Linked DNA regions of Homo sapiens: all the other regions are linked to region 1. Evidence: fine-mapped QTL for protein levels in blood plasma. A gene starts in region 1. Each other region holds a variant in brackets. All regions are shown on one strand. Distances are between the middles of the regions.

Region 1 (4,076 bases):
TTTCCTAAGCTGTTTGCTTTTACTCCTACTGGCAGACGAGGAGCAGTGAGGGACTGAAAGGAACTGGGGATTCAACAGCAGTGGCTCTCAAAATGTGGTCCTGGGACCAGCAGCATTACCTGGGTACGCTCGGGCCTCATCCCAGACCTAATGAATTAGAAACTTGAGGGTGGAGTCCAGAAATCTGTGTTTTCATATACGCTCCCCATCGCTTGAGTCCAGGAGTTGGAAGCTGCAGTGAGCTATGATCGCAGCACTGCACTCCAGCCTAGGCAACGTGCGAGAACCTGTCTCAAAAAACAAACAAAATACACACACACACACACACACACACACACACACACACACACACACACCCTGCAGGTGATTACGATCTCAAGTTCTAGAGGCTTACGTTAAAATTTACACATTTGCTTCTACTATTTACAAGTTTATGTTTCAGCCTGAGCTCTTCTTGTAAGACAGACCACGAGGTACCCCAGATGGAGGAATGTGCAAAGACGCCGGGGCTGGAGCTGGAATCCGTCCCGAGACTTCTCACCTTGACCTCGAGGAAGGCAGGAGGTCGGAGACAGGGGGTGGGCAGGCTGGGGAAAGAGGAAACCCGCAGGACAAGAGGGTTGTGGCTCGTCACGTGGCCACTTGAGGGCAGCAAGTAGCTGCAGCTGGAGGTAGCTGCCTATCTGATTCTGTTTGAGAGTCCGCCAAGTTGGGATTTAAATTAGACATCAAGAAGAATTTACAGACCGGCCTTGCCTTGTTCCACGGTAAGGGGACATTGGGTTTAGGGCTGGAGGAGGTAGTCTCTGGGACTCTGGGCCCGGCGGAAGGAGGAACCGGCGTTCTAAGAGATTAGAGAGCCTTTAGTTGTTTCCTTTCTTAGGTGTTTTTTTTTCTTTTCTTTTCTTTTTTTTTTTTTTAACCTCAGTGCCACGGAATCCGTCTCTTCCAGCCCACAGTGTACCTTCTCCTGTCCCCGCCCATATCCCTCCTCCTGGAAAATTTCTCCAATGGCGCTCAGCGTTCGCACCCTTCCTCTCCGCGGTTTTCTAGTCCCTAGGCCCCAGCCCACTAGAAGCCAGGATGCCCCCTCACCCCGTCTCCCACTCTCCAGCGCCCCAGCTCCTTGCCGTCACAAGAACGAAGTAGGTCAGGGGAGGGAAGAGGCATCTTCGTGTCCTGACCTGATTCCTTGCCGTCTATTAAATATCCTACATTGCGGGTATTTTTATTCTGTCCTGGAAGAAAAAATAAAAAGATTATCTATCCCCAGAGCCTGTCAGAAGGTGGTGACAGGTGGGGTGAGCCATTTCCTCGTCTGGGGCTGGCTCTGAAGATTGATTGGGTCTGGCCCTGAGTAGGCCTGGAGGCCCCAGAGAGGCAGGAGGCCTGGGTTACCTACTCGTGGGGAGGGGTCCAGACTGTTGCAGAGTAAGGGGTAGCCAGGCCCCCTCCACCCTCACGTCTGCTAGGCTTGGGGGGCAAATCGGTGCTGGAAATGGGGGGTGGAGGGATAAGGTGGAGTCATGGAAGGGGGGTGGGATTCAGGCCCCTCTTGGGGAGAAAAGCTGGGGGTCTTTGCTGCAGGGGGAGATTTCTGGGGGTGGGGGCTGGAGGACAAAGCATCAGAGACGCACAGAATTCCGAAGAACAGCTCAGGAAGTCGCAGAGCTTGGAGGAGCTGGGGGCGGGGAACAGTCAGGGGCCCGTGACCCAGGGATGGGGCGCCTGTCCCTTCCAGGGGTCCAGTCCTCGGGCCTTCTCTCTGCAGCTTTCCCGGCGGAACGGAGGAGGGAAAGGGAGCCAGGAGCTCAGTGAGGAGCGCGGGGCGGCTGATGCTTCTAGGGGTTCTCTCAGCCCGAGGGGCTCCCGCCCTGTCCCCTACTCTGCACCCCTTGCCTTGGGAGCGGCTGCAGAGCTCTAGGGGAGCGCTCCGTTAGGGCTGAGGGCAGGCGCCGGGAGAGCCCCCAACGACGCCGCGCCCCCCGCCCCGCCCCCTGCCCCAGCTCCCCCCCACCCCCACCGACCCAGCGGCCCCCCCAGCTCCCCGCCTGCTCCCGGAGGCCGCAGCCTCCAGCTCCGCTCGCGCTCTCGCCGCTCCTGCCGGCTCGCCCGGCCCCGCGCTCCGCCGTCTCCTCGCCGCCCGCCCCTCCGCCAGCCCCGGGGACCGCGCGGCCGCAGCCTGAGCCAGGGCCCCCTCCCTCGTCAGGACCGGGGCAGCAAGCAGGCCGGGGGCAGGTCCGGGCACCCACCATGCGAGGCGAGCTCTGGCTCCTGGTGCTGGTGCTCAGGGAGGCTGCCCGGGCGCTGAGCCCCCAGCCCGGAGCAGGTAGGACTGGCGGGAGCCGGCCCGGGTGGGCCGGGGGCGGGGAGGGACGGGCAGTCAGGTGTGGGCATGGGCAGGTGTGGACGGCCTGGCGATGTCCGCGAGGGGGGCATTGTCCGCAGGAGGCCAGGAGAGCTGTGGGCTGTGGGCAGGTGGATAGGGACCCCACTTTCCCAAACACATAGGGTGTGTGAGTGACGGTGGAGACACCGATGCCCGGACCTCTCCTTCTCTCCTGGAAGGATACTGGAGGGACCTTAGGAGAGGGGGCTCTATGTGGCCATGGGCTCTGAAAGGGGACAGCGGGAGAGTCATCAGGACCCCTGATCACCCCAGGCAAGGCTGAATTCTGATGAGATGGGAGCCTGGGGAGGCCCCTGCCCCAGCCATGCCTTCTTTTCCTCTTCTCTGCCACACCCCCGACCCCAAAGCTGATCCAGGCTAGGGATAGGTGGGAGCAGCCAGGGGGATGGTGGGGACACAGCGTCTCTGCCTGGGAAGGCAGCAGCCATTCGGTCACCTTCCCTTGCCTATTTGGTGTCAGTAGAGAGGCAGTGGGCCCAGGAAGAAGCAACTTGCTGCTTCTGCACCCCCAGCCTCAAGAGTCCCCCTCCTCACACCTGCTCCCATTTGCCCTGGCAGCCTTTGGCTTTCAGCTACTCTGGCTCTAGATGGGGCACTGGGGTAGGGGGTGGAGGGAGGCGTCCCATTCTGCACACTCCTCTTCCCCCCTACCAGTTCTCCAAACTCATCTCTCCCACCTGGAAGTCCTTTCTGAGATCTACCTGGAATCCCTCATGGTATAATTTTCATAGTCTCTGTTCTCCCCTAAGCACCTAGACTTTCTCTGGGGTTGGGGAGATGGGTAATTTGCAGCCTGGCCCCTCAGCAGAGATGATTAAGAAGATAGATACCTGTGCATCATTGGCATGGGTGCCCCTCAGGTGGGGTGAGGGAGGCGCTGTTGAGGTGAGTGCTGTGGTTGACCTGCTGTGTCTCAGGAGTGTGCTGGCACCAGGCACAGTGTCAGTGGCAATGTTCTTGACTTTAATGGTCCCAGCATGTAGCTGAGACAGACCTGGGTCCCTATTGAGAAGAAGAGTATGTTGGGGGTGGGAGGGGAAGGAGGCTGACAGTGGGAAGTATGGGCAGAGGGCAGTGGAGCTGACGAACCGAGAAGCTGCTGGTGAGAACCACCAATTTTCAGGGAGACCACACAGAGGGTGGCCAGAGACGTGGCTTCTAGTCCCGCCATCTCACTTGCTGTGTGACTTTAGACAAGTTACTTTCTCTCTCTGGACCTATTTTTGCATTTATAAAGTGAGGCTGTTGGCAAAATCTTTGACTCTTGTGCGTGGAATAATGAAGGATCTTTTATAATTGCCTTTCCTTTTCATATTTGTTAGGGTCTTTATGGGTAACTGATACTTTAAAAAAATCAAGGTAAACAGGAGAGAGTTGGATATGTTATGAATAATTTCTGGGCTCCTTTGAATCCTCAACCTGGTGTGATCTTCTGAACTCTGGGTGTAACAGAGTTTATGAGGGGAGGATCTGAACCTTTGGCTGGATTGTGTGAACCACGGAGAGGGCTGGGGAAGGGGGAATTGGGAGGTAACAAGGATGGGCTGGGAGATAGTGGCCAGACCCGGGCCTGGCTGAGGGCGGCCCCTTCAGAGTAGGGTTGGGGTAGTAGACGGTTGAGGAGACCAGGAAGAGTGGGGCAGGCAGAGACTTGAATCACTTCTCT
Region 2 (4,076 bases), 370 kb before region 1:
TACGCTTAGCAAAAGCACAAAGGCCCCATTCTGGCACTGACCTATTGCATCCCCAGCCCCAGACTCCACCTTGCCAGGAGCAGGCTGAGGTGGTGCTGGGCTGCTGTTCTTCACAGGCTCAGTACTTGTCCCTGAGGTAGTTTCTTTTCGAGAAGTTTTGGATGGAGGTGGCTCTTCGACTACAACACCACTTTGTCGCTGACGTCGCCGTTTCTTACTCCACAACTCATGGCAATCCTGCCAGTGGGGGAGGCTGGAAAAAGACAAAGCAAAGGGGAAATATGTAAGGGAATGCAGCAGTGAATGAATGGAGGAGCAAAGGATTAAAATGGGAAGGCAAAGACTGTGGGAAATGTAAAGAATAAGGAAAACAAAAATAACCAAAAAAGTTAGTAAAAGTAGGTAACAGCAGTGTAAAATAAATCATGGCAGATGGTAGTCTGAGGAAATAAAAGTACGAAAGTTACATAGTGAGAAAGGAGGATCTTGCTAATACTAGGTACAGACCAGCTATATAAATTCCCATATAAATACTGTCTTTCCTTGGCATAACAACAAAAAAGGAGAACAGTATTGGTCAAGTTTCAGTAGGGAATAAAGACGAGGACAGTAATGGCTGGCTTGTTAATGTATACAGAAGGTCGAGGAAAGGCGGTGACTTAAACCATGGAACCATGTATCATGATCAAAACATCTCTGTGCAAAATCAACTTATGTGTAATTTGGTTTGTGAGGACCAAAGACTAGTTCTTTCCCCTTTCTGCCCACAGAATTTCTATGACTGGATATCAACTTGCTCATCTGTGGAGTTCAGCACTACGTATAACTTAGTCCAGAATCTCTCATACAATCAGACCAAGTAGGTCAAATCTTACTATAAATCTCTCTATAATAGGAGTTCCCAAATTTCAGTAAAACCCTTATATGTTTCAAGTCATATTCAATGTATCAACATTCTAGTGTAATAAATGAATTTGGCTGGGCGCGGCAGCTCATGCCTGTAATCCCAGCACTTTGGGAGGTAGAGGCAGGCGGATCATGAGGTCAGGAGTTCGAGACTAGCCTGGCAACATGGTGAAACCTGGTCTCTGCTAAAAATACAAAAATTAGCCAAGTGTGGTGGTGTGTGCCTGTAATCCCAGCTACTAAGGAGGCTGAAGCAGGAGGATTGCTTGAACCTGGGAGGTGGAGGCTGCAGTGAGCCGAGATCACACCACTGCACTCCAGCCTGAGCAACAGAACAAGAGTCTGTCTCAAAAAAATAAATGAATTTGGACATTTCTTTGGAGCAATCAGATTTAGAATTACTACCTACTCATGAACTAACATCCTATCCATTTTTAAGACATGTAGTCTTTCTTAAGAAAATGACCTCCAAAATTTGACATTAAAGCTATAATACTGTCACTGACAAATTCAAAGATAAAATACTTTTTTTTTCTTTTTCTTTTGAGACAGAGTCTTGCTCTGTTGCCCAGGCTAGAGTGCAGTGGTGCAATCTCAGTTCACTGCAACCTCCGCCTCCCAGGTTCAAGTGATTCTCCTGCCTTAGTCTCCCTGAGTAGCTGGGACTACAGGTACACGCCACTACGCCTGGCTAATTTTTGTATTTTTTAGTAGAGACGGGGTTTCACTATGTTGGCCAAACTGGTCTCGAACTCATGACCTCAGGTGATCTGCCTGCCTCAGCCTCCCAAAGTGCTGGGATTACAGGCATGAGCCACCGTGCCAGGCCAGATAAAAGACTTTTTATGTGCTATAATGTGGGATATGAATCTCTGAAGCTCCAATACAATACAGAGGCATTCATAAGATTTTAATTAAATAGAGACATATTAAAAGATCATATTTCTTTTATGTTACTTTAATTTTTTGAGATGGAGTATCACTCTATGGTCTAGGCAGGAATGCACTGGCACAATCTCGGCTCACTGCAACCTCCACCTCCCGAGTTCAGGCGATTCTCCTCCCTCAGCCTCCTGAGTAGCCAGGACTACAAGCATACACCACCACACCTGGTTAATTTTTTGTATTTTTAGGAGAGACGGGGTTTTACCATGTTGGCCAGGCTCTCTTGAACTCCTGACCTCAGGTGATCCATCCACCTCGGCCTCCCAAAGTGCTGGGATTACAGGTGTGAGCGACCGCGCTCGACCGAAAGATCTTATTTCTTACATCAAAATTCAGTAATCTGGCTGGGTGCGGTAGCTCACGCCTATAATCACAGCACTTTGGGAGGAC[G/A]AGGCAGGCGAATCACCTGAGGTCAGGAATTGGAGACAAGTCTGGTCAACATGGTGAAACCTCATCTCTACTAAAAATACAAAAATTAGCCAGCTGTGGTGCCGGGCTCCTGTAATCCAGCTACTCAGGAGGCTGAGGCACGGGAATCGCTTGAAGCCGGGAGGTGGAGGTTGCAGTGAGTTGAGATTGTGCCACTGCACTCCAGCCTGGGTGACAGAGTGAGAGACCCTGTCTCAGAAAAAAACAAAAACAACAAAAAAAACTGGCAGTGATGCAAACCATTTAAAACTGGGACTGTTGGCCGGGTTCAGTGGCTCACGCCTGTAATCCCAGCACTTTCGGAGGCCGAGGCAGGCAGATTACCTGAGGTCGGGACTTCAAGACCAGTCTCACCAATATGGTGAAACTCTGTTTCTACTAAAAATACAAAATTAGCCAGGCATGGGGGCGCATACCTGTAATCCCAGCTACTCGGGAGGCTGAGGCAGGAAACGCTTGTGGTGAGTCGAGATCACACCACTGCACTCCAGCCTGGGCAACAAGAGTGAAACTCTGTCTCAAAAAAAATAATAACAAAAAAAACCCCAAAAAACTGGGACTATCTCTGCAAGTGTGAGATATACATGGTCACCAGAGACATGCATGATTACAGCTGGAGGAATGGTTAAGAGCAAAAACCAGAGGGAGGCCAAGCATGTGTCTCCTGCCTGTAATCCCATGACTTTGGAAGGCTGAGGCGGGAGAATCACTTGAGCCCAGGAGTTTGAGACAGTCTGGACAACATTGTGAGACTCCATTTCTACAATTGGAAAAAAAAAAAAAAAGGCTGGGAGTGGTGGCTCATGCCTGTAATCCCAACACTTTGGGAGGCTGAGGCAGGCAGATCACCTGAAGTCAGGAGTTTGAGACCACCTTGGCCAACATGGTGAAACCCTGTCTCTACTAAAAATACAAAAAAATTAGTCGGGCGTGGTGGCCTGCGCCTATAATCCCAGCTACTCAGTAGGCTGGGACAGGAGAACTGCTTGAATCCAGGAGATGGAGGTTGCAGTGAGCCGAGATCACGCCACTGCACTCCAGCCTGGGCGACAGAGCGAGACTCCGTCTCGGAAAAAACAAAAAAGGCTGGGAGCAGTAGCTCACATCTGTAATCCCGGCACCTTGGGAGGCCAAGGCGGGCGGATCACCTGAGGCCAGGAGTTCAAGATCAGCCCGGCCAACGTGATGAAACCCTGTCTCTACTAAAAATACAAAAATTAGCCGGGCATGGTGGCGTAATTCCAGCTACTTGGGAGGCTGAGGCAGGAGAATTGCTTGAAACTGGGAGGCGGAGATTGCAGTGAGCCAATATCACACCACTGCACTCCAGCCTGGATGCGAAGAGTGAAACTCCGTCTCAAAACACACAAACAAACAAACAGGCCAGGCACGGTGGCTCACACCTGTGATCCCAGCACTTTGAGAGGCCAAGATGGGCAGGAGTTCAAGACCAGCCTGGCCAACATGGTGAAACCCCATCTCTACTAAAAATACAAAAAAATGGCCAGGCACTGTGGCTCATGCCTGTAATCCCAGCACTTTGGGAGGCCGAGGTGGGCAGATCACCTGAGGTCGGGAGTTCGAGACCAACCTGACCAACATGGAGAAACTCTGTCTCTACTAAAAACACAAAATTAGCTGGGCATGGTGGCACGTGCCTGTAATTTCAGCTTGGGAAGGCTGAGGCAGGTGAATCGCTTGAACCTGGGAAGCAGAGGTTGCGGCGAGCTGAGATTGCGCCATTGTACTCCAGCCTGGGGAACAAGAGCGAAACTCCATCTCAAAAAACAAAACAA
Region 3 (4,076 bases), 12 kb after region 1:
TTGTCACAGCTTGGGATGGGGAGGAGCGTGGTGCTACTGGCATTTAGTGAGCAGGGGCCAAGGCTGCGGCTGCTAAACATCTTACAGAGCACTGGACAGTTCCCGCATAACAATGAATTATCCAGTCCAACCAACAATCCAATTTAAAAACAGGAAAAAGACTTAAATAGACATTTCTCCAAAGAAGATATACAAATGGCCCACAAGCATATGAAAAGATGTTCGGCATCACTAATCATCAGGGAAATGCCAATTTATAAAAACGATGAGATATAACCTCATACCTGTTAGGATGGCTACTATAAAAAAAACAGAAAATAACAAGTATTGGCAAGAATGTGGAGAGATTGGAACCCATGTGCACGGTTGGTGGGAATGTAAAATGGTCCAGTCATTTTACATGGAAAACATTTTATATGGAAAACAGTATGACAATTCCTCAAAAAATTAGAAATAGAATTACCATACAATCCAGCAATTCCGCTTCTGGGTATATACCCAAAAGAATTGAAGGCCAGGTCTCAAAGAGATATTTGTACACCCATGTTTGTAGCAGCATTGTTCACAATAGCTAAAACGTGGAAGCAAAACAGACATCCATTGATAGTTGAGTGGGTTAGCAAAATGTGGTATATCCACACAATGGAATATTATTCAGCCTTCAAAAGGAAGTCAATTCTGCCATATGCTACGACATGAATGAACCTTGAATTTATTATGCTAAGTGAAATAAGCCAATCACAAAAAGACAAATATAGTATGATGCCATTTATATGAGATACTTAGAGTAGTCAAAATCATAGATACAGGCTGCGCGCTGTGGCTCATATCTGTAATCCCAGCACCTTGGGAGCCAAGGCAGGAAAATTGCTTGAGACCAGGAATTCAAGACCAACCACCCTGAACAAAATAGTGAGACCCTGTCTCTATAAAAAGTAAAAAGATTAGCTGGGCATGGTGGCGCATGCCTATAGTCCCAGCTACTTAGGAAGCTGAGGTGGGAGGATCGCATGAGCCCAGCAGTTGGAGGCTGCAGTGAGCTATGATCGCACCACTACTCCCCAGCCTGGGTGACAGAGCAAGGCCCCATCTCTTAAATAAAATAAAATAACAGGGGTGAATAGGGAGTTATTATTTAACGGGTACAGAATTTTAGTTTTACAAGGTGAAAAGAGTTATGCAGATAGATGGTGGTGATGGTCATACAACATTAGGAATGTATTTAATGTTACTGAATTGTACACTTGGAAATGGTTAGATGGCAAATTTTGTTATGTGTATTTTGCCACAATAAAAAAATTGGAAAAGGAATTATCCAGTCCAAATGTCAATAGTACCGAGGTTGAGAAGCCCTGAACGAAAAGAACTCTGGCTTCTAGTCCCCTGACCCCACTGGGAAATAGGATTATGTGCCATTTCTGCCAGAGAAATAAGAAACTGGTTTGGAAGGCTCAACGGCAATGGTTCTCACCCTTGCCTGCAGAGTTAAGTCCAAGACTCCTCAAAATCTCCCCTGAGGCTCTTTTAAGAAATCGAGGCTAGGCGCGGTGGCTCACGCCTGTAATCCCAGCACTTTGGGAGGCCGAGACGGGTGGATCACGAGGTCAGGAGATTGAGACCATCCTGGCTAACACGGTGAAACCTCGTCTCTATTAAAAATACAAAAAATTAGCTGGGCGCGGTAGCGGGCGCCTGTAGTCCCAGCTACTCGGGAGGCTGAGGCAGGAGAATGGCGTGAACCCTGGAGGCGGAGCTTGCAGGGAGCGGAGCTCGGGCCACTGCACTCCAGCCTGGGTGACAGAGCGAGACTCCATTTCAAAAAAAGAAAAAGAAAAAGAAATTGAATGCCCAGGCTACACCATAGACCAGTTACAAGAGATCTCTAGGGTGGGACCCAGACATCAGGAACTTTTGAAGCTGTCCAGGTGACTCCAGTGTATAGCTGAGGTTGAGAATAATCACCCTTTGGAGGCAGATCAGCTTGGGTTTGAAACTTACCTGCATGCCTAACCCACTGCGTGACTTTTAACCTCTGAGCCTCTGATTCTTGTTTGCAAAATGGAGAACATCCTAACTACTGCGGAGAGCTGGCATGAGGATTAAAAGGATATGTGCGAAGTGCTTGGCCTGGAGCTGGGCACGTGACTCTCAGTACACATTGGGTGTCTCCTGTCCTGGTAGTCAGTCAAGTGTCTGCAAATTCTACAGTGGCATGGTGTTGGGGCCCTTGCAGAATAACTGGGCTGGATTCCCCTCCTGATCTTCATTCCGGACTGCTGGCACTCAGGTTTCTGTCCCCTTCTCCCAGGTCACGATGAGGGCCCAGGCTCTGGATGGGCTGCCAAAGGGACCGTGCGGGGCTGGAACCGGAGAGCCCGAGAGAGCCCTGGGCATGTGTCAGAGCCGGACAGGACCCAGCTGAGCCAGGACCTGGGTGGGGGCACCCTGGCCATGGACA[C/A]GCTGCCAGATAACAGGACCAGGGTGGTGGTGAGTGCTGGAGGAACATGGAGGGGGAGCGAAGTGGGGGTGGGGGAGGTCTCACCAGCTGCCCCAGGTGTGCTTGTCCTACATGCAAATCACATATCATTTGGGGTTGGCCCCGGAGGACAGGGTGGAGAGAAGAATCCCCGGGGAGGGGATGGAAGCAGGGCCCAGACTGGGTCATAAAATCACAGCATCTCAGCGTTTCATAGGCTGCCTACTCCCTCCTGGACCCAGAGACATCAAATGGATTGTATCAGGATGCACAGCCTGACCACAGCATTCCTGAAACTGGACTCTCCCATGACTTAGGGAAGAAAAAGCTGACAGTGGCCTTATGAGTCACATCTCAGCTGCCAGATGGGGCCCTTCCCCACCCCATTTCTGCCCCATCTACAGACTGGGGCGCAAGAGGATTAATGGCTGCTTAGCCTAAGGGCTGGGCACTCAGCAGGGGGCTGAGTAGAGAAAGCAATTAGGGTGCAGCTCCTGGAGACAACCTCCTTGGCCTGGGGCAGTTCTGGGGTGCTGGCACAGGGAGGAGAGGCCTGGAGGGAGTGCTCTTCTCTCAGGGTTTCCGGGAGGCTCTTGGAAGCCTCGGTGTGTCTGGGGGTGAATCTATTAATATAATTGTGCGTTTCTGGGAATGGGTGTGTGTGTCATGGACGCTGGGTTCGCACCTGTGTCAGATGATTTTGTATATTATGTATGTGTACCTGTCTGTCACTGTGGGCTGTTTGTGGGTGTCTGTGATGAGCATGTGTAAGTGTGAGTGTGCCTGTGGCTGTGTGTGTAGGTGCCTGCGGCTGGGAGTGATGAGGGTGGATTCTTAGGACGCAAGAAGCAACAAGAGGACCTTCTTCTCAGTATAGATTTATTTTATATTTTAATAACTATTTTCTTAAATTAGTATGTGCTGACAGTTAAAAAAAAAAAAGGTTAAATAGTGCTAAAATCATAAAACAAAACAGCAGTCCTGCCCCTCCTCTCCCCTGGGGCCTGCCCCCTTCCCTTTCTCAGAAGGCTCTGTCTGGGCTGTTTCCTCTGGAGTTTACTTCCATATTTCCAAGGGATTTGCTTATACTGTACTGCTACCTCTCTGTGCACTGGTTTTAGGCCGTACCTATTCATGGCCTGCTGCGGCTCAGGGAGATTTGGCTTTTGTATACTCCCGCTGAGCAACCTTTCACCCTGCCGCCCAATCTTCCTGTTCAATCCGTGTGCTCGGTTGTGGATTGTGACGATCATGTACATAGTGTTCACTTCTAATCCAGGCAGGGTCATAACATTGTTTCTTTTCTTGTATGATTTTGGCTCTTCCTGGATCCTGGCCCCCTCTCCTGCCCTTGCTTACTTAGTTTTCTGTGCCTACCGTAGCTACATTTTCCTACACGTCCCCTAGCCTCAAATGTAATTCCAGTGTGGGCTGGGCATGGTGGCCCACACCTGTAATCCTAGCACTTTGGGAGGCCCAGACGGGTGGATCGCTTGAGCTCAGGAGTTCCAGAATAGCCTAAGCAACATAGTGAGACCCACGTCTCTAAAAAATTAAAACAAAAATTATCTGGATGTGGTGGTTTGCCCCTGTAGTCCCA
Region 4 (4,076 bases), 650 kb after region 1:
TGACCTGCTGCCAACACTGCCTGCCAGTGTGCCCCTGCCACCTCCCTCTCTTCCTACTACACCTGGGGATGCATCTGCTAGGAGCACAGGCTACTGCTGCTTCACGGGCTCTGGGCCCAGCTCTTCCTCTCTCTCTCTGTCTCTCACCTGGATCATTCCCATTGGCAAGTAAATATGTGCTTTCGTCTTTTTTTGTTTGTTTGTTTGTTTGTTTTTGAGATAGGATCTTGCTCTGTTGCCCAGGCTGGAGTGCAGTGGCATGATCACGGCTCATCACTGCAGCCTCAACCTCCCAAGCTCAAATGATCTTCCTGCCTCAGCCTCCCAAGTAGCTGGGACTACAGGCATGCCCCACCATGCCTGGTTAATTTTTGCATTTTTTGTAGAGTTGAGGTCTCACTATGTTGTCCAGGCTGGTCTCGGACTCCTGGGCTCAAGGGATCCTCCTGCCTCGGCCTCCAAATGTGTTGGGATTATAGGCGTGAGCCACCATGCCTGGCTGCTTTCATCTTTTAATGAAAGTTTCCCTCAAGCCACATATTTTTCCATTTTTGTTCTGTAAATATCTCTTCACAATCGGACTTCTCACAAGAGTGGTCTACGTATGCGCTTTTCCCTCCCTCACTTTATTAGCTCATTCCATCTGGTTTCTGCCTCCACTGTGCCTCCAAACCTGCCAGACAGATAGTCTATTTCTTCATAAGCTTAGTGTCTGTCTCTCATTAGAAGATAAGCTTTGTGAGGGCAGGAACCTATCTGTTTGGCTCATTATTTATATTTTCAGTACCCAGCACAGTACTGATATAAAGTAGACGTTCAACAAGTATTTGTGGTATTATCAAATGAATTAGCCCTATCTTTTTCAAAAGCATTGTTAGGTTTTGGTATCAGGGTAATGCTGGCCTCATAAATGAGTTGGAAAGTGTTTCCTCCTCTTCTATTTTCCTTTCTTTTTTTTGAGACGGAGTCTCGCTCTGTCGCCCAGACTGGAGTGCAGTGGCACGACCTCGGCTCACTGCAACCTCCTCTTCCCAGGTTCAAGCAATTATCCTGCCTCAGCCTCCTGAGTAGCTGGGATTACAGGCGCATGCCACCACACCCAGCTAATTTTTTTGTATTTTTAGTAGAGATGGGGTTTCACCATGTTGGCCAGGCTGGTCTTTAACTCTTGATCTCAAGATCCGACCTCAGCCTCCCAAAGTGCTAGGATTACAGGCGTGAGCCATGGTGCCCAGCCACCCTCTTTTATCTTCCAAAAGAGATAGTGGAGAATTGGTATTATTTCTTAAATAACTATTTAAATAACATTTAAATAATTCAAATATTTAAATAACTATTTAAATATATCAATATTTAAAATTATACTATTTTCTATTTAGAATATTTTAAAATTATTAAAGTAAATTGTTTAAAAATTTAAAAAATTCCTTAAATATTTGGTAGAATTTAACAGTGAAACCATCTGGTCCTGAAGTTTTCATTGTTGGGGGATTTTAAATTACATATTCAATTTCCTTAGGAGGTATAGGACTATTCAGGTTATCTATTTTTTCTTAAGTGAGTTTTGGCAGTCTGAATCTTTCAAAGAATTGGTCTATTTCACCTAAGTTATTGAATTTATGGGCAACTTTATGCCCATAAATTCAATTACTTAGGGGTCTATAGCCAGGCGCAGTGACTCACGCCTGTAATCCCAGCACTTTC[GGAGGCC/C]AAGGGGGACGGATCACGCGGTCAGGAGATCAAGACCATCCTGGCTAACCTGGTGAAACCCCGTCTCCACTAAAAATACAAAAAATTAGCTGGACGTGATGGTGGGCGCCTGTAGTCCCAGCTACTCGGGAGGCTGAGGCAGGAGAATGGTGTGAACCTGGGAGGCGGAGCTTGCAGTGAGCCGAGATGGTGCCACTGCACTCCAGCCTGGGTGACAGAGCAAGACTCCGTCTCAAAAAAAATAAATAAATAAAAAATAAAAAATAACTTAGGGGTCTGTAGTGATGTCCCTCTTTCATCCCTGATACTGATAATCTGTGCCATCTTTCTTTTTATTCTGTTAGTCTGGCTAGAGGTTTATCAATTTCACTGATTTTTTTTCAAAGAACCAGCTTTTGGTTTCATTGCTTTTTTTCAACTGTTTTCTATTTCATGGATTTCTGCTCCTCTCTTTATTTCCTTCTGCTTGCTTTAGGCTCTCCAAAGACCTTAAAGGATATCTGTTTTATTTATTATAGCACCCCACAGATTTACTGATATTCCCATTTTATAGATGAGGAAGCTAAGGATCAGAAAGTGGTTAAGTAACTTGCCCAATGTCCCAAACTACTAAATGGTGGAGCCAGAACTCAAACCCAGGACTGTCTGACTGCAGAGTCTGTGCTTCTAACTACTGAGTGACATTGCCTCCTAGCCACATAACTCCCAGGCCAGGTCCTTCTACTACAGCAGATGCCTCACCAAACACTGCCAAGGTAAGCAATTTCTCAGCTTACCTTGGGCACTCGGTACCTCCTGCCTTCCCTCCCAGGGACCATCAACTTTCCCCATGGTCCAACTGCCATTCCCTCAATTCCCTTGAACAAAAACCAAAGTGGGCTGCCTTGTACAGGGATCAAGCCTTCAGAATTGCCTTCATACGTACCTTGGACTTGGCTGAACTACAGGTGGTAGAATCTGTTGGTGAAAGACAGAAAAAAAAATGAAAGTTGCATCAGGAAAAAAGAAAGCTGAGTCTTATGCACACAATTCCCTCTCCTCAAAGGCTTCAGAAACCAGGGAATTCTGAAACATGAGATCTCCCCAGGCCCTAGGAGTATGATGGACATCTGATGTCCATCTATGGGAGAGGGATGGAGGAGAAAATGATGTTAACTGCCACTTCCTCTAGAGGCAGGAAGTGACATCAGGCTGCCAGCCACTGGCCCCTCATTTACCGATGGCTAAGGGCAAGGGGGCATTGTCTTTGAGCCTGGTTCCTCTCCCCTTCCCCGCCCGTCCCTGTTACTCTGAAGCACTGGAGAGAAAATGCCAAATATCAGGTGCAGTCCATGGAAACCACCACAGTGAAACACAGCAAATCACAGATGCTCTGGAGAAATGGAGACCACACAGTGCACAGAGAGGTGGGTGCCCTACATCCACCCCCGAGCACACAACAGAGAAGAGGGACCACATGAATAATGGATAAAAGGGCAAAAATGAAGTGGGTGGGACGCAGGAGGTGGAGTGGGCTGGTGATTAGAGCCTTGATAGGTTCCACCTCCGGACCTGGGGTCACCCTGCCTCATGGGCAGGGTCCCCAGTTATCACCCAGTTATGAAGGAGACCAAAAGCATGATTTCTATGGGACTTGGGTCCCACTCCCTTAATATCACTGGGGTGGAGAAGGAACCAGAAACACGTCCTGGTGGGTCCCCTCCAAGGCTAAAGAAGGAGCAGGTTGGTCCAAGGGCCTCCTGGGGTCCCACAGGGTAGTGGGCAGGTGCGGTTAATCCACACTCTCTGGCAGGCAAGTTAGACGCCCCCCTCTCCGGACCCCTCCCCCTGCACAAGGTGAGAAAAGCAAGATGGGCGACCACACACGACACACAGGGCGCGGGGGGCGGCGGGTGATTAGAAGAGACATGGGGTCCCTCTCTGCCGTCCCACCCCCATGTCTTCTGGCCCCTCCTGAGCCTGCCTCTGGTGACTAGGGAGCTCCTGTGTGCCTCTGTCAGAGACGAACAGAAATGCTAAAACTAAAGGGAGGGACAACCATGGCGGGGGGAGGAGTCAGTGGCTGCAGCCACAAAGGGAGTGGCCCTCATCTGTCTCTGAGCATGTAAATCATCTGTCCTCTGCCATGAGAGGGCCACAGGCCCTGCAAACAGGACTTAGGGCCCCGGTTTCTTAAGCAGGAAGAGGCGGCCCATTGGGGTGACTGAGGCAGGAGTTAGAGATAAAGAGAAGCTTCTGGGCGTGGCATCGCTGGTCTCCAGAGAGTGTCGGTCCCCAGCCTGGATGACTAGCAGTGGTGAGACTCGGCAAAGAGAGGCCGCAGGGTCTGTGGCACTGCAGGAGGGCAGCAATTCGATGCCCAGGTG
Region 5 (4,076 bases), 530 kb before region 1:
CAGAGCCCTAGGTCAGGCTGTTTGGGAAGGAGAGAGGAAAGAAGGGCATTTTTCTTGTCCTGAAGAAGGAAGCCACTAAAAGACCCAGTAGGACAGTTTACAAACACAGAGGGGAGATGGGGGGCTAAAGAGGATGCTGGGACCACAGGTCTTTCCAAGGGCCCTTCTGGAGGACTTGGAGCAATCTCAATTCCAGCCCAGGCCTGGTGGGGAGTCACAGCCATAGTCTCTGTGTAGAGCTCAGCCTAGTCTTTTTTTTTTTTTTTTTTTTTTTTTTTTTGAGACAGAGTCTCACTGTGTCACCCAGGCTGGAGTGCAAATGGCGCAATCTTGGCTCACTGCAACCTCCACCTCCTGGGTTCAAGCAATTCTCCTGCCTCAGCCTCCCAAGTAGCTGGGATGATAGGCGCGTGCCACCACACCTGGCTAATTTTGTATTTTTAGTAGAGACGGGGTTTCTCCATGTTGGTCAGGCTGGTCTCGAACTCCCAACCTCAGGTGATCCACCCACCTCGGCCTCCCAAAGTGCAGGGATTACAGTTGTGAGTCACTGCACCTGGCGAGCTCAGCCTAGGCTTAGACCATCCCTGGAGAAGCCCAGGTATGGTTACATCTGCAGGTGCAGAAAGGGCTGTCAGCTTCACAGTACGGCTGGTCTAAAGAGCTGTATTCAGGGCCTGGTATTGTGTGATAAGCACAGACTGGGGTGCAGATATGGACCGTGACGGCCTTGGGAAGGGTGTGAGAATGAAAGGTTGCAACGGATGTCTCTAGGTCGGAGCTGCCCCTGTAAGCCTTAAGGAAAAAATTTCCATTCACTCACCTTCCTGCTCTCACAGAAGCCATTCACTCAGGTGTTGAGCACCTACTATATGCCAGGCACTTTGCTGGAGATCCAGAAGTCTGCCCTCTGGTGCTAATCATACAATTGAATGTAAGAGTACAACTATGAAAAAGTGCAGTCGGGGAGAGGTGCTTCAGGGGTGTGTGTAAAGGCAGACCAAGACCAGCATGGGGCCATCAGGGAAGGCTTCCCTGGGGAAGGGGCATTAAAGGTAAGGTGGGAAGGATGCATGAATGTTAACTAGGTAAATTTGAGAAGAGTAAGGGAAGGCTTCTAAAGAGAAGTCTCAGAAAGTGCCCAGGTGGGAGAGAGGGAGGGTCATTCCAGGCAGCCTGACATGCAGGAAATCAGAGAGTGGGTGTGAGCTGGGCGGACTGATGGGTGGTGGATGGGGCCAGCCATGGAGAGCCTCACATTGGAGATCTTGACTCTCAAAGCATCAGGAAGTACGGAGGGATTTTATTTTATTTTATTTTATTTTATTT[G/TATTTG]AGACAAAGTCTCACTCTGTTGCCCCAGCTGGAGTGCAGTGGCGCTATCTTGGCTCGCTGCAACCTCTGCCTCCCAGTTCAAGCGATTCTCCTGCCTCAGCCTCCTGAGCAGCTGGGACTACAGGCATGTGCCACCATGCCTGGCTAATTTTTGTATTTTTAGTAGAGATGGGGTTTCACTATGTTGGCCAGGCTGGTCTTGAACTCCTGACCTCGTGATCCGCCCACCTCACCCTCCCAAAGTGCTGGGATTACAGGCATCAGCCACCGTGCTCGGCCTACGGAGGGATTTTAAATGAGGGTTGAGGAGAAAAGTTGTTTCATGAATAGATTTGCCCTTTGGAAAGCTCATTCTGGCTACTGTGTAGAGAACAGATTGAAGGGGGCGGGAGTGGATGCAGTAGACCAGTTGGTAGTTTTAGCACAGGGCCCAGTAGCTAGACTAGAGAGGTGGCATGGGTCTTGGGCATTGAAGAGAAGTACACTTGAGCTGTGTTTTGGAGGTAACATTAAAGCTTTTTAAAAATTTATTTCCTTAACAAATACATACATAGCTCATACTGTATGCCAGGCATCACTCTAAGCATTTTATAAGTATTAAGCTTGTTCATCCATAACAAGTGGCAAAAGACAAATTACAGCAAACTTACTTATAGAGCCAATTGGCTTTAATTTGTGATTCATGAATTGGTGCAGCCTCCGTTCTACAAAATAGAATGCAAGTTTCCATTGGGCAATAGCAGAACAGTGGGTTTTGTAAGGTGGGAACCAGGAAACAGAACAATAGAAAGAAACCTGATTGGTTAACATCAGATTTTTTTTTTTTTTTTTTTTTTTTTTTTTTTTTTTTGAGACAGAGTCTCACTCTGTCACCCAGGCTGGAGTGCAGTGGCGCCATCTTGGCCCACTGCAAGCTCTGCCTTCCGGGTTCACGCCATTCTCCTGCCTCAGCCTCCCAAGTAGCTGGGACTACAGGCGCCCACCACCACACCTGGCTAATTTTTTGTGTGTGTATTTTTAGTAGAGATGGGGTTTCACCATGTTAGCCAGGATAGTCTCGATCTCCTGATCTCGTGATCCGCCTGCCTCGGCCTCCCAAAGTGCTGAGATTACAGGCATGAGCCACTGCGCCCGGCCCACATCAGGTTTTTTTTTATAAGGGTTAAAGCAGAGGAGACTTCCTTACTTGGGTAGACTGGACTCTCCTGTTTTCAGGAAAAAGTGGTCTGTTTTGGGACCTATCAGTTACCTTAAAGTTTCAGTTTGAAGATCAAGTGCGGTGGCTCAGGCGTGTAATCCCAGCACTTTGGGAGGCCAAGGCGGGTGGATCACCTGAGGTCAGGAGTTCAAGACCAGCCTGACCAACATGAAGAAACCCTGTCTCTACTAAAAATACAAAATTAGCTGGGCATAGTGTTGCATGCCTTTAGTACCAGATACTTGGGAGGCTGAGGCAGGAAAATCACTTGAACCCGGAAGGCGGAGGTTGCGGTGAGCTGAGATCACGCCATTGCACTCCCGCCTGGGCAACAACAGTGAAACTCCGTCTCAGAAAAAAAAAAAGTTTCAGTTTGATTATGTGGCATTTAGCATGAGTGACTTCATTTTTGTCTGGTCTCTTGGGTCTAGTGCGGGGGCTCAATCCAGAACAATGGCCTCCCGTAATTTTTGTTTAACGCAGCTTATAGGTATTATTATTCTCATCCCCAGTTTATAGATGAGGAAACCAAGGACTGAAAAGGTTAAGTCCAGCCACAGATCACCGAGCCAGGGTTTGAATTCAGGCATCTGGCTCCAGAGTCCACACTTTCAACATCTTGGCTATGCTGATAAACTTCAAGAGTGGATTAGATGAGGAAAGAGCAGTAAGGGATGACCCCTTGTGTTTCTGCTTATAAGACAGTGATGGAGGCCGGGCGCAGTGGCTCACACCTGCGGTTCCAGCACTTTGGAAGGCTGAAGTGGGCGGATTGCTTGAGCTCACAAGTTCCAGACCACCCTGGGCAACATGGTGAAACCCCGTCTCTACCAAAAATACAAAAAAAATAAGCCAGGCCTGGTGGCACATGCCCGTAGTCCCAGCTAGTAGGAGGCTGAGGTGGGAGGATCACTTGAGCCCAGGAGGTCGAGGCTGCAGTGAGCTGTGATCCTGTCACTGTACTCTTGTTGCTCTAGCCCGGGTGACAAAGGGTGACCTGTCTTTAAAAAAAAAAAAGACAGTGATAGAAGCTGTGGGTGTGGATGAGATCACCCCAGGAGAGCCTAGTGAAAAGAGAAGGGATCTAGGGCAAAGCCCTGGGGAACCCCAAAATGTAATGGCTGGCTAAAGGAAGATGAGCCAGACACAGAGACAGAAGGAGTAGCCGGAGGGGCAGGTGGAGAACTGGGAGATAGTGTGCTTGGATTGTGCTTCCCGGGATGAGCACAGGAAGGAGAGAGGCTTCTGCTGTCCTGAATTGTACACGTGAGAACTGAAGGAGACCCCGGAATCTGGAGACACAGAGGTCTCTAGGGCCTTAGAAAAGCTGATAGATGGGGCGTGCTGCGAAGTCCAGGCCGAGCCTTAGACTTGGGAGGTGGGCGTGGGAAGGAGGTCAGGGAAGGAGGCTGTTAAACCTCTGGGAAATATGGACCCTCCTTAATACTTCCTATTCAACAACTATTAATAACAGTTGTGATAAATTAAGGAACAGGAGCCATGTGACAGGCTTGTCTGAAGCACTTTACATACATTTCCTTATTTCATC
Region 6 (4,076 bases), 84 kb after region 1:
GCAGCCCCTGTCTGCCCTAATGATCTCTCCACAGGCCTTCAGAACAACCTGTCCCCCAAGACAAAGGGCACTCCTGTGCACCTGGGCACCATCGTGGGCATCGTGCTGGCAGTCCTCCTCGTGGCGGCCATCATCCTGGCTGGAATTTACATCAATGGCCACCCCACATCCAATGCTGCGCTCTTCTTCATCGAGGTCCGTGTCATCTGTGGCCACAGGGCTCCTGTCTGCTTCTGCGTCGGCGTCTCCTGGGCCATTCGGTCCCTGCCTCTCCCCTTCTCCCTCTCCCCTGCCACATACCTGAGAAAACTTCATCCACCCCATCCTGGCACATTTCGAGATGGCTGGCGCCCGTTAAGTCCTGCACCCTGATAAATCAGCACCTCAGAACTCCCTCGGCCCTCCTGTCCTGTGGAACAGCCCCTCTGCTTTTGTTCCCCCATTTGTGAAATCAGAAAAAATCCCCAGAGGAAAGAAAGAAGGCCACAGTGCCACATAGTGCTCATCTAGTGGCTGTGCAGCCTATCTCCAGTGATTTATGGTCTCTCATGCCCAAATGCCAGGCTCAGTACTTACTCAAAGCCATGAGGGAACCAGGGTCTCTGCCTCTTTTGCCTACTGATACCTGCTTTTAAGGCTAAAATTGAGGGGCAGGTGCAGTGGCTCCTTCCTAAGATCCTAGCACTTTGAGAAACCAAGGCAAGATTACTTGAGCACAGGAGTTTGAGACTAGCCTGGGCAACAGAGTGAGACCCCGTCTCTACAAAAATTTAAAAAATTAGCCCAGCGTGGTGGCACGTACCTGTGGTCCCAGCCGCTTGGGAAGCTGAGGTGGGAGGATCCCTTGAGCCCAGTGGTTTGAGGCTGCAGTGAGCCCTGACCATACCACTGCACTCCAACCTGGGCAATAGAGGAGACCCCATCTCTAAAATAGAAATAAAAATAAAATAGACAAGCCAAATAATGATAAGAGCTGCCCTCTGGGAGCTTTAATTGAGGATACTAAGTTTTGAATGTCTCAATTCTGAAGAGCCAGCCTGAGGGGCAGCATGGGATGTGAGGCTCAGCCCCCTTCACTCGGGGCTGCAGAGCTCAGCAGCTCCTGCCCCCAGTCCTCCACTTCTGGCTTCTTACGAGTTCCCCACAGAGTGCAGCAGTGGTGCCTCTGTGACCCTAGTTTCTTCCACGTGGGTCACAAGCCCACCAGCCTCATTAACCCACAGGCCTAGGTCATTCCCCCAGTTTCTTAGGAGGCTTAGTCATTCTGAAGTCTTAGCCTACCTGGGTAACACCTGGGAACTGCAGATCCCTGGGCCACAGGGATTCTGATAGGGCAGGTCTAAGGCAGGCCCAGGAATCTGCATTTTATTTATTTCGAGACAGTCTCACTCTGTCGCCTAGGCTGGAGTACAGTGGCACAATCTTGGCTTACTGCAGCCTCCGCCTCCTGGGTTCAAGCAATTCTGGTGCCTCAACCTTCTGAGTAGTTGCGACTACAGGCACGTGCCACCACACTCAGCTAATTTTTGTATTTTTAGTGGAGACAGTGTTTCACCATGTTGGCCAGGCTGGTCTTGAACTCCTGGCCTCAAGTGATCTGCCCATCTTGGCCTCCCAAAGTGCTGGGATTACAGGCATAAGCCACTGCACAGGCCAGAATCTGCATTTTAATAAGCCCCCTGTTGACTCTGATGTGGATCCTGTGCTACCTTGGAGGGTTATCTTGGCATTTTCAGAGCCTCAAGCATCATGCCAGCCATCTCTGAGCCACTCCCTCACATTGCAGTCCTAGGTCTCCACTTGGTGTATTGCTGAACCTTTCAGCTGTGAGTTCTGCAGACCACACAGTGAAGGATAAAGTGTCCTCCTTCCACACTCTAGCTTTCGGCAGGTTTCCCAGTGGTTGGGGGATCACAGCACGGAACATTTTAGGGAGAGGGTCCCTGAAGGTCAGTTGTGTGGCTCCTGGTAGGCCCAAGTGCCCCAGGGCCCTTATAAGAGACAGTCTTGGTTGGCTCTGTCGCTCAGGAGTGTGGGGTCCCCATGGGGGCGGGGGCATGCCCACTGACTTTGCCTCTGTGCCTTCTGCAGC[G/A]TAGACCTCACCACTGGCCAGCCATGAAGTTTCGCAGCCACCCTGACCATTCCACCTATGCGGAGGTGGAGCCCTCGGGCCATGAGAAGGAGGGCTTCATGGAGGCTGAGCAGTGCTGAGAACACCAAGTCTCCCCTTTGAAGACTTTGAGGCCACAGAAAAGACAGTTAAAGCAAAGAAGAGAAGTGACTTTTCCTGGCCTCTCCCAGCATGCCCTGGGCTGAGATGAGATGGTGGTTTATGGCTCCAGAGCTGCTGCTCGCTTCGTCAGCACACCCCGAATATTGAAGAGGGGGCCAAAAAACAACCACATGGATTTTTTATAGGAACAACAACCTAATCTCATCCTGTTTTGATGCAAGGGTTCTCTTCTGTGTCTTGTAACCATGAAACAGCAGAAGAACTAACATAACTAACTCCATTTTTGTTTAAGGGGCCTTTACCTATTCCTGCACCTAGGCTAGGATAACTTTAGAGCACTGACATAAAACGCAAAAACAGGAATCATGCCGTTTGCAAAACTAACTCTGGGATTAAAGGGGAAGCATGTAAACAGCTAACTGTTTTTGTTAAAGATTTATAGGAATGAGGAGGTTTGGCTATTGTCACATGACAGACTGTTAGCCAAGGACAAAGAAGTTCTGCAAACCTCCCCTGGACCCTTGCTGGTGTCCAGATGTCTGCGGTTGTCAGCCCCTTCCTTTCCCCCGACCTAAACATAAAAGACAAGGCAAAGCCCGCATAATTTTAAGACGGTTCTTTAGGACATTAGTCCACCATCTTCTTGGTTTGCTGGCTCTCCGAAATAAAGTCCCTTTCCTTGCTCCAACTCCTTGTCTCTCAACGTATTGGCTATGACGCAGCAAGCAGAATGAATTTGGACTCAGTTACAGGCTGTCAATGGTCTGCTCTGTAGCAGTCTCAGAGCCTCCCCGACCCACTACCTGGAGATAGCCAGATAGCCAGATGCCCTGCTCCTGGCCACCTTTAAAGCCCCTGCATATGACACAGGTTAACTAAAGTCAAGATTGGGGCTGCTGCATTCCAGGTTCCCTAGACTCACAAGCTGGTCCTTGGCCAGGTGCAGTGGCTCACGCCTGTAATCCCAGCACTTTGGGAGGCTGAGGCAGGCGGATCACCTGAAGTCAGAAGTTTGAGACCAGCCTGGCCAACATAATTAAAATGTCTCTACTAAAAATACAAAAAATTAGCTGGGTGTGGTGACGCTTGCCTGTATCCCAGCTACTCAGGAAGCTGAGACACGAGAATCACTTGAACCTGGGAGGCAGAGGTTGCAGTGAGCTCAGATAGTGCCACTGCACTCCAGCCTGGGTGACAGAGCGAGACTCCGTCTCAAAAAAAAAAAAAGAAAGCAGATCCTCATGGCTATAGAGTTGGCATTTTAGCCCCAGCTTCTGTAGCTCTGAAAGCCTAAAGAAGGTATTCTCTCCATCTGTTAAACACAGTATAGTGGCTCTCAGCCCTTGGGGCATGTTATCATGGGAGGGAAGTCAAATAAGAGGAGAGAAAAGAACTCAAGGGGGAAACTGCATTTTTAGGCTTTGCTCTCTTACCTTGCCCTTTCTACTCAGAACCAATAACTTCTGCATCAAAACATGTTACAGCCTGCATCAAGGGCTTTACCCCAACCTGCAGCCCAGCCTTCCCTGGGTGAGCTTGCTATGCGCAGCCACATTTACCATGTGGGGCTCCCTATTCTGATGGCCTGTTCGGTGCCGGGTTTACTCACTGCCCTGTTCTGATGTCAGTGCCTGTACATACCTCCAAAGGCAGGACTTGCCTGATAAATATTTTTCCTCCTCTGAACTGGATTTTATAGGCATTAAAGACAAGTCGGGTGGCTAGAGGGCTCCTTGAGACATACCTAGCAGGGAACTGCAGGTGGATTCTGTTGAGAGGCAAAGCACCTGAGTGGTTGGGACACAGGCAGCTGGCATGGGAGGGACTTTTTTTGAGACAGGGT
Region 7 (4,000 bases), 250 kb before region 1:
TCACCCACCCACTGGCGGGGCTGCCAGACTCCGCTCCCCTTTCTTGCGACCCAGAAGCCCAGCGCAGCCCGGTGCCCCCAGTCCCCTCGCCGGTTCGCCCCCCGTCTCTTCCCACCAGCGGGCCCCCGCGGGGGATTAGCTCGGGCGCCCTAATTCCACCCTCCTCCAGGATCGCTCAGCTTTCCATTCTTTACACAACCCTTGGCTTGCCTCCTTCCACCCAGCCATCACGGCTCCGGTCCACCAGAGCCTGCTGCTTTTCTCGCTGCTACCTTCATGACGCGTTTGTTGTCTGTTGAGGGAGGAAATTAGGGGATGGGTACCATTTCTCCGAGTTTGAGACCTTGGTGAAACTAGGGAAGTGGGGACGGTAGTTTGGGATGATAGAGGCTACCACGGGTTTTCGGTGCTGTGTTTGGTTTGGGTATTGTTCTGATACTTCCTCTGCTTTCCCGTTTAGTCTGTACTTCTGTAGCTCATTGTTCCTTGGGAACCCTTGGATGTCTACATGCTTTGAGATTGGGACGAAAGTTCAGCAAATCCATTCCGGTCTGTCTTTCAGGAACTTTTTCTCCTCTAGCGAGGGAGGTTTACTGTCCTGGAATTGAGGAGTGGACGGTCTTGAAAGCGTCTTTAGAGAGTAGTCATCTTGCAAGGAAGAGATTCCTTTGGGAAGTGAAATATTGTAACTACTGATGAATTACAGTAGTATAACAATATACTGGAAGGTTCCTTGAGGGTCAAGAGAAAGAAACTTCTACAGGAAGAGTAAATGTCACCTGGTCTTTTCTGGCAGAGAACCAGGCTGACCTGGGATCACTCACAGCTCAGTGGACAATCTCACTCGGTGTTTTTCTTCATCTCCATTTGAGAGATGAAATTGTAAGACGGCGAGACAAAAGTTTAAGAAACTCGACAACTAGGTTCAGGGTGTGAAAACTTTTAAGGGTTGTCAGTTTAATCTATTCTTTGATTTCTTATTATGCGAACTGGGAAATAATTTGAATTGATCCACGAAGATCAAGATAGGAAGTGTTTTGGGTGCAGTTTAAGTTCAGAGCTTCAGTGTTACTGTTGCACTTCAGGAGTGGAGAAAATCAAAGAATTGGCCTTCTTAGAGTTTTAGTATTTAACTTGATCACTAGAAGAAAATGTTATGGAATATATTATTTGGTGTTTAATAGGACATTGGATGGCCCTAATGTACAGAGCCCCAATAAAGTTAATTTATGATGGTTTCGTATTCAGTAGTACCGTAAAAACCCAGAATGTCACTAAAATTGCTGAATAGACGTTCAGCAGTTAACAGGAATCTTGAAAGGCAGTTCCAGATACTGAAGATTTGAGTCGGGGACAGTCTTTTGCCTGTGGAATTAGCTCTTTATCAGTTTGCTGTTCATTTTAGATTGAATAATTTTTGGAAAGTATTCTCTTGTATGTGGTGTAAAATTACATTGCTATTTTGTATTTTTATAATTATCTTATACTTTAATTTACAATCTCTGTAGGGGTGGCATACTATAATAAAGTAATAAGGAAATTTGTTGC[T/C]GTATTAAGAGGTTTCTTTTTAACTTGTAGCTGATGTAGCTGGCAACGAAATCTTTCTAAATATGATCTGAGAAGGTAAAAAAAAGAATAAGGTGGGGAGTCCTTCTTGGACGGTTTCATGATTAAATAAGTGTTTGTTTATAAACTAAAAGCTATTCACTTAATATGATGTGAAGTGTTCCATGCCGGAATACAGATGAGAATGGCTAGAAATGATATGTGTTAATGAAGTTCATTGAGTACTTCTTAAAACCATTTACCTCTTTATTGACCTAATTTACAAGGACTGAGACAATTAGTAATTGGCTTCTTAGGAAGTAGTAAATAAATTTATTGCTTATTTGTTGAAAATATTTTAAATATTTACTTTCAATAAAAGATACGTAAATAAAGCAGATCTAAACATTTACATCAAATGATATTTTAAATCCTCAAGATTACAGTCTGCTTCTTAAAGAACTGATAATTTTACAACTGTAAGCAGATAGCAGATCTCATTGAGAATTTTTGTGGATGCATGAAATCTTTATATCACATAATAGCTAATTTCAAATTGTGGCTACGTAAGGTTTATTTTTCTTGGAGAAGATAACTGAAGCTCTATGATTTTCAGATAGTTGATTCATTGAAATCCTTTTGTAGGTATGCTTTTATATGTTGTAACTGGAGGCCACACACCTTAAATCTCCCACTCTGGGTTAGAGCTATAGAAAAAAAATTTTTTTAATTTAAAACCAAGGGGCCGGGCGAGGTGGCTCATGCCTGTAATCCCAGCACTTTGGGAGGCCGAGGTGGGTGGATCACGAGGTCAGGAGTTCAAGACCAGCCTGACCAACCTGGTGAAACCCGGTCTCTACTAAAAATACAAAAATTAGCCGGGCGTGGTAGTGGGCACCTGTAATTCCAGCTACTCAGGAGGCTGAGGCAGGAGAATCACTTGAACCCAGGAGGCGGAGGTTGTATTGAGCCGAGATTGTGCCATTTTACTCCAGCCTGGGCGACAGAGCGAGAGATTCCGTCTCCAAAAAAAAAACAAAAAACAACGAGGGTGAGTACCTGTTAGCCAGATGTGTAGCATCCTGTGGAATAGCCAAAGTAGATGACTACTGAATAAAGAATCTCTATTTAAGAGATCAAGAGATGTGAAAATTCATGTTTTTCTTGCTGTGTCACCATGGCATTAAATGTATACAGTAATAACCCTTGTAGGTCAACATAGTATGTGCTGAATTGTGTTAATCAATTAAAACTTACCATTCAGATATTTTAATTATGTTATTTATGGTAAACTTTGCAGCAAATTTTAGTAATTGTCTTTCAAATTTAACGATGGTTATTGAATACTTCCTGCATGACAGACACTGAGCCAGATGTTTTACCTCAGTTACCTCTAGCTTTTTGTTGTTGTTGTTGTTTTGTTGCTTTTTTTCTTTGAGATGAAATCTTGCCCTTGTCCCCAGGCTGGAGTGCAATGGTGCGATCTCGGCTCACTGCAACCACTTCCCAGGTTTTAAGCGATTCTACTGCCTCAGCCTCCCGAGTAGCTGGGATTACAGGCGCCTGCCACCATGCCCGGCTAATTTTTGTATTTTTAGTAGAGACGGGGTTTCACCATGTTGGCCAGGCTGGTCTCGAGCTCCTGACCTCGTGATCCAACCCCCCCCCCCCCCCCGCCCGCCGGCCTCCCAAAGTGCTGGGATTACAGGCGTGAGCCACCGCACCCGGCTAGTTACCTCTAGTTTTACGATTCTGTTTTACACTTGAGGAAAGTGAAGGCCTGAGAGGTTAAGTAAGGTGTTCAAATTGCACACCTAGTAAGTGGGGGAACCAGGATTCCAATCTGCATTTTTTTTTTTTGACTCCACTGTCATCCTGCTTTTTTTTTTAGCATGACTAGCAAAAAGTCTATAAAATTTGTGGAAAAGAGCTTTTCCAAAGTTCATCCATTTTATTTTATTTTGTATTTGCTACTGCTGGGCTTGAGCAATCCTTTCGCCGGCCTCCCAAAGTGTTAGAATTACAGGTGTGATTACCACACCTGACTGCCTTCATTTTAAGTGCCATAACTGACATTATCTTAACACTTAGTGAGATTAATGTTTAAATATCTAGACTAGCCCTTGAATCTAAGCTTAGATTTGCTTCAGTTAAGCCTCTCCACTTTGTCATGCTCTTAGTAGCTTCTTTATGAGGATGTAGTACTGTTGGAGAAAAATTCTGTCTTAATGGGTTTATTAAAAAGCCTAACATTAAAAAACAATCATAGTGGTAACATTAACTGACATTCAGATACCATTTTACAGTTTAAACAGTGCCTGGAGATAAGAACCCATAAGTTAGAAAGTGATATGCTCCAATTTCGGTATTTTGAATCCATGTTCATTATTGTTTTTCATTATACGTCACTGCCTTTCGTATAAATCTGTAATATTATGTGCAACCTGTAACCCTA

Which allele goes with the higher level. Alleles are on the strand shown, and positions count from the first base shown. The strength of an association depends on the size of the effect and on how common the allele is. Not every link is listed here.
As copies of A replace G in region 2, the plasma level of the protein whose gene starts at base 2,054 in region 1 goes up (moderate association).
For the plasma level of the protein whose gene starts at base 2,054 in region 1, allele C in region 4 goes with a lower level than allele GGAGGCC (strong association).
With allele G in place of TATTTG in region 5, the plasma level of the protein whose gene starts at base 2,054 in region 1 is higher (moderate association).
In carriers of allele C in region 7, the plasma level of the protein whose gene starts at base 2,054 in region 1 tends to be lower than with T alone (moderate association).

What was found. PIP is the posterior inclusion probability: the model's chance that the variant is causal. Protein levels are from antibody-based Olink assays in UK Biobank. Linkage for the fine-mapping came from a reference panel and not from the study's own genotypes, which makes the PIPs less certain.
Region 2: its variant is fine-mapped to the plasma level of the PLXDC1 protein (UK Biobank, PIP above 0.99).
Region 3: its variant is fine-mapped to the plasma level of the PLXDC1 protein (UK Biobank, PIP 0.92). The variant lies in the coding sequence of PLXDC1. If it changes the protein, the assay may bind it differently, which can mimic a change of level.
Region 4: its variant is fine-mapped to the plasma level of the PLXDC1 protein (UK Biobank, PIP above 0.99).
Region 5: its variant is fine-mapped to the plasma level of the PLXDC1 protein (UK Biobank, PIP above 0.99).
Region 6: its variant is fine-mapped to the plasma level of the PLXDC1 protein (UK Biobank, PIP above 0.99). The variant lies in the coding sequence of PLXDC1. If it changes the protein, the assay may bind it differently, which can mimic a change of level.
Region 7: its variant is fine-mapped to the plasma level of the PLXDC1 protein (UK Biobank, PIP 0.98).

Annotation. Positions count from the first base shown.
Region 1 is chr17:39,149,615-39,153,690 of GRCh38, reverse strand. PLXDC1 (plexin domain containing 1) reads left to right here and starts at 2,054. Exons shown (of 14, transcript NM_020405.5): 1 at 2,054-2,329. The coding sequence starts at 2,254. RefSeq lists enhancers at 1-28, 401-550.
Region 2 is chr17:39,520,851-39,524,926 of GRCh38, reverse strand. CDK12 (cyclin dependent kinase 12) reads right to left here. Exons shown (of 14, transcript NM_016507.4): 12 at 42-253. Among named protein-coding and RNA genes, the nearest start is that of CDK12, 61 kb to the right of the region's middle. The variant G/A (reference allele first, on the strand shown) is at 2,242.
Region 3 is chr17:39,138,065-39,142,140 of GRCh38, reverse strand. It overlaps PLXDC1 (plexin domain containing 1), which reads left to right. Exons shown (of 14, transcript NM_020405.5): 2 at 2,309-2,487. Among named protein-coding and RNA genes, the nearest start is that of PLXDC1, 12 kb to the left of the region's middle. The variant C/A (reference allele first, on the strand shown) is at 2,459.
Region 4 is chr17:38,499,188-38,503,263 of GRCh38, reverse strand. It overlaps ARHGAP23 (Rho GTPase activating protein 23), which reads right to left. Exons shown (of 24, transcript NM_001199417.2): 23 at 2,636-2,667. Among named protein-coding and RNA genes, the nearest start is that of ARHGAP23, 73 kb to the right of the region's middle. RefSeq lists enhancers at 3,147-3,671, 3,672-4,076. The variant GGAGGCC/C (reference allele first, on the strand shown) is at 1,705.
Region 5 is chr17:39,680,329-39,684,404 of GRCh38, reverse strand. All of the region lies in intron 3 of PGAP3 (post-GPI attachment to proteins phospholipase 3), which reads left to right. Among named protein-coding and RNA genes, the nearest start is that of PGAP3, 5.7 kb to the left of the region's middle. The variant G/TATTTG (reference allele first, on the strand shown) is at 1,330.
Region 6 is chr17:39,065,975-39,070,050 of GRCh38, reverse strand. PLXDC1 (plexin domain containing 1) reads left to right here. Exons shown (of 14, transcript NM_020405.5): 13 at 35-195; 14 at 2,092-4,076. The coding sequence ends at 2,211. It also overlaps the pseudogene RDM1P5. Among named protein-coding and RNA genes, the nearest start is that of LINC02079, 41 kb to the right of the region's middle. The variant G/A (reference allele first, on the strand shown) is at 2,093.
Region 7 is chr17:39,397,261-39,401,260 of GRCh38, reverse strand. All of the region lies in intron 1 of FBXL20 (F-box and leucine rich repeat protein 20), which reads left to right. Among named protein-coding and RNA genes, the nearest start is that of FBXL20, 2.4 kb to the left of the region's middle. RefSeq lists silencers at 1-25, 90-382. The variant T/C (reference allele first, on the strand shown) is at 1,549.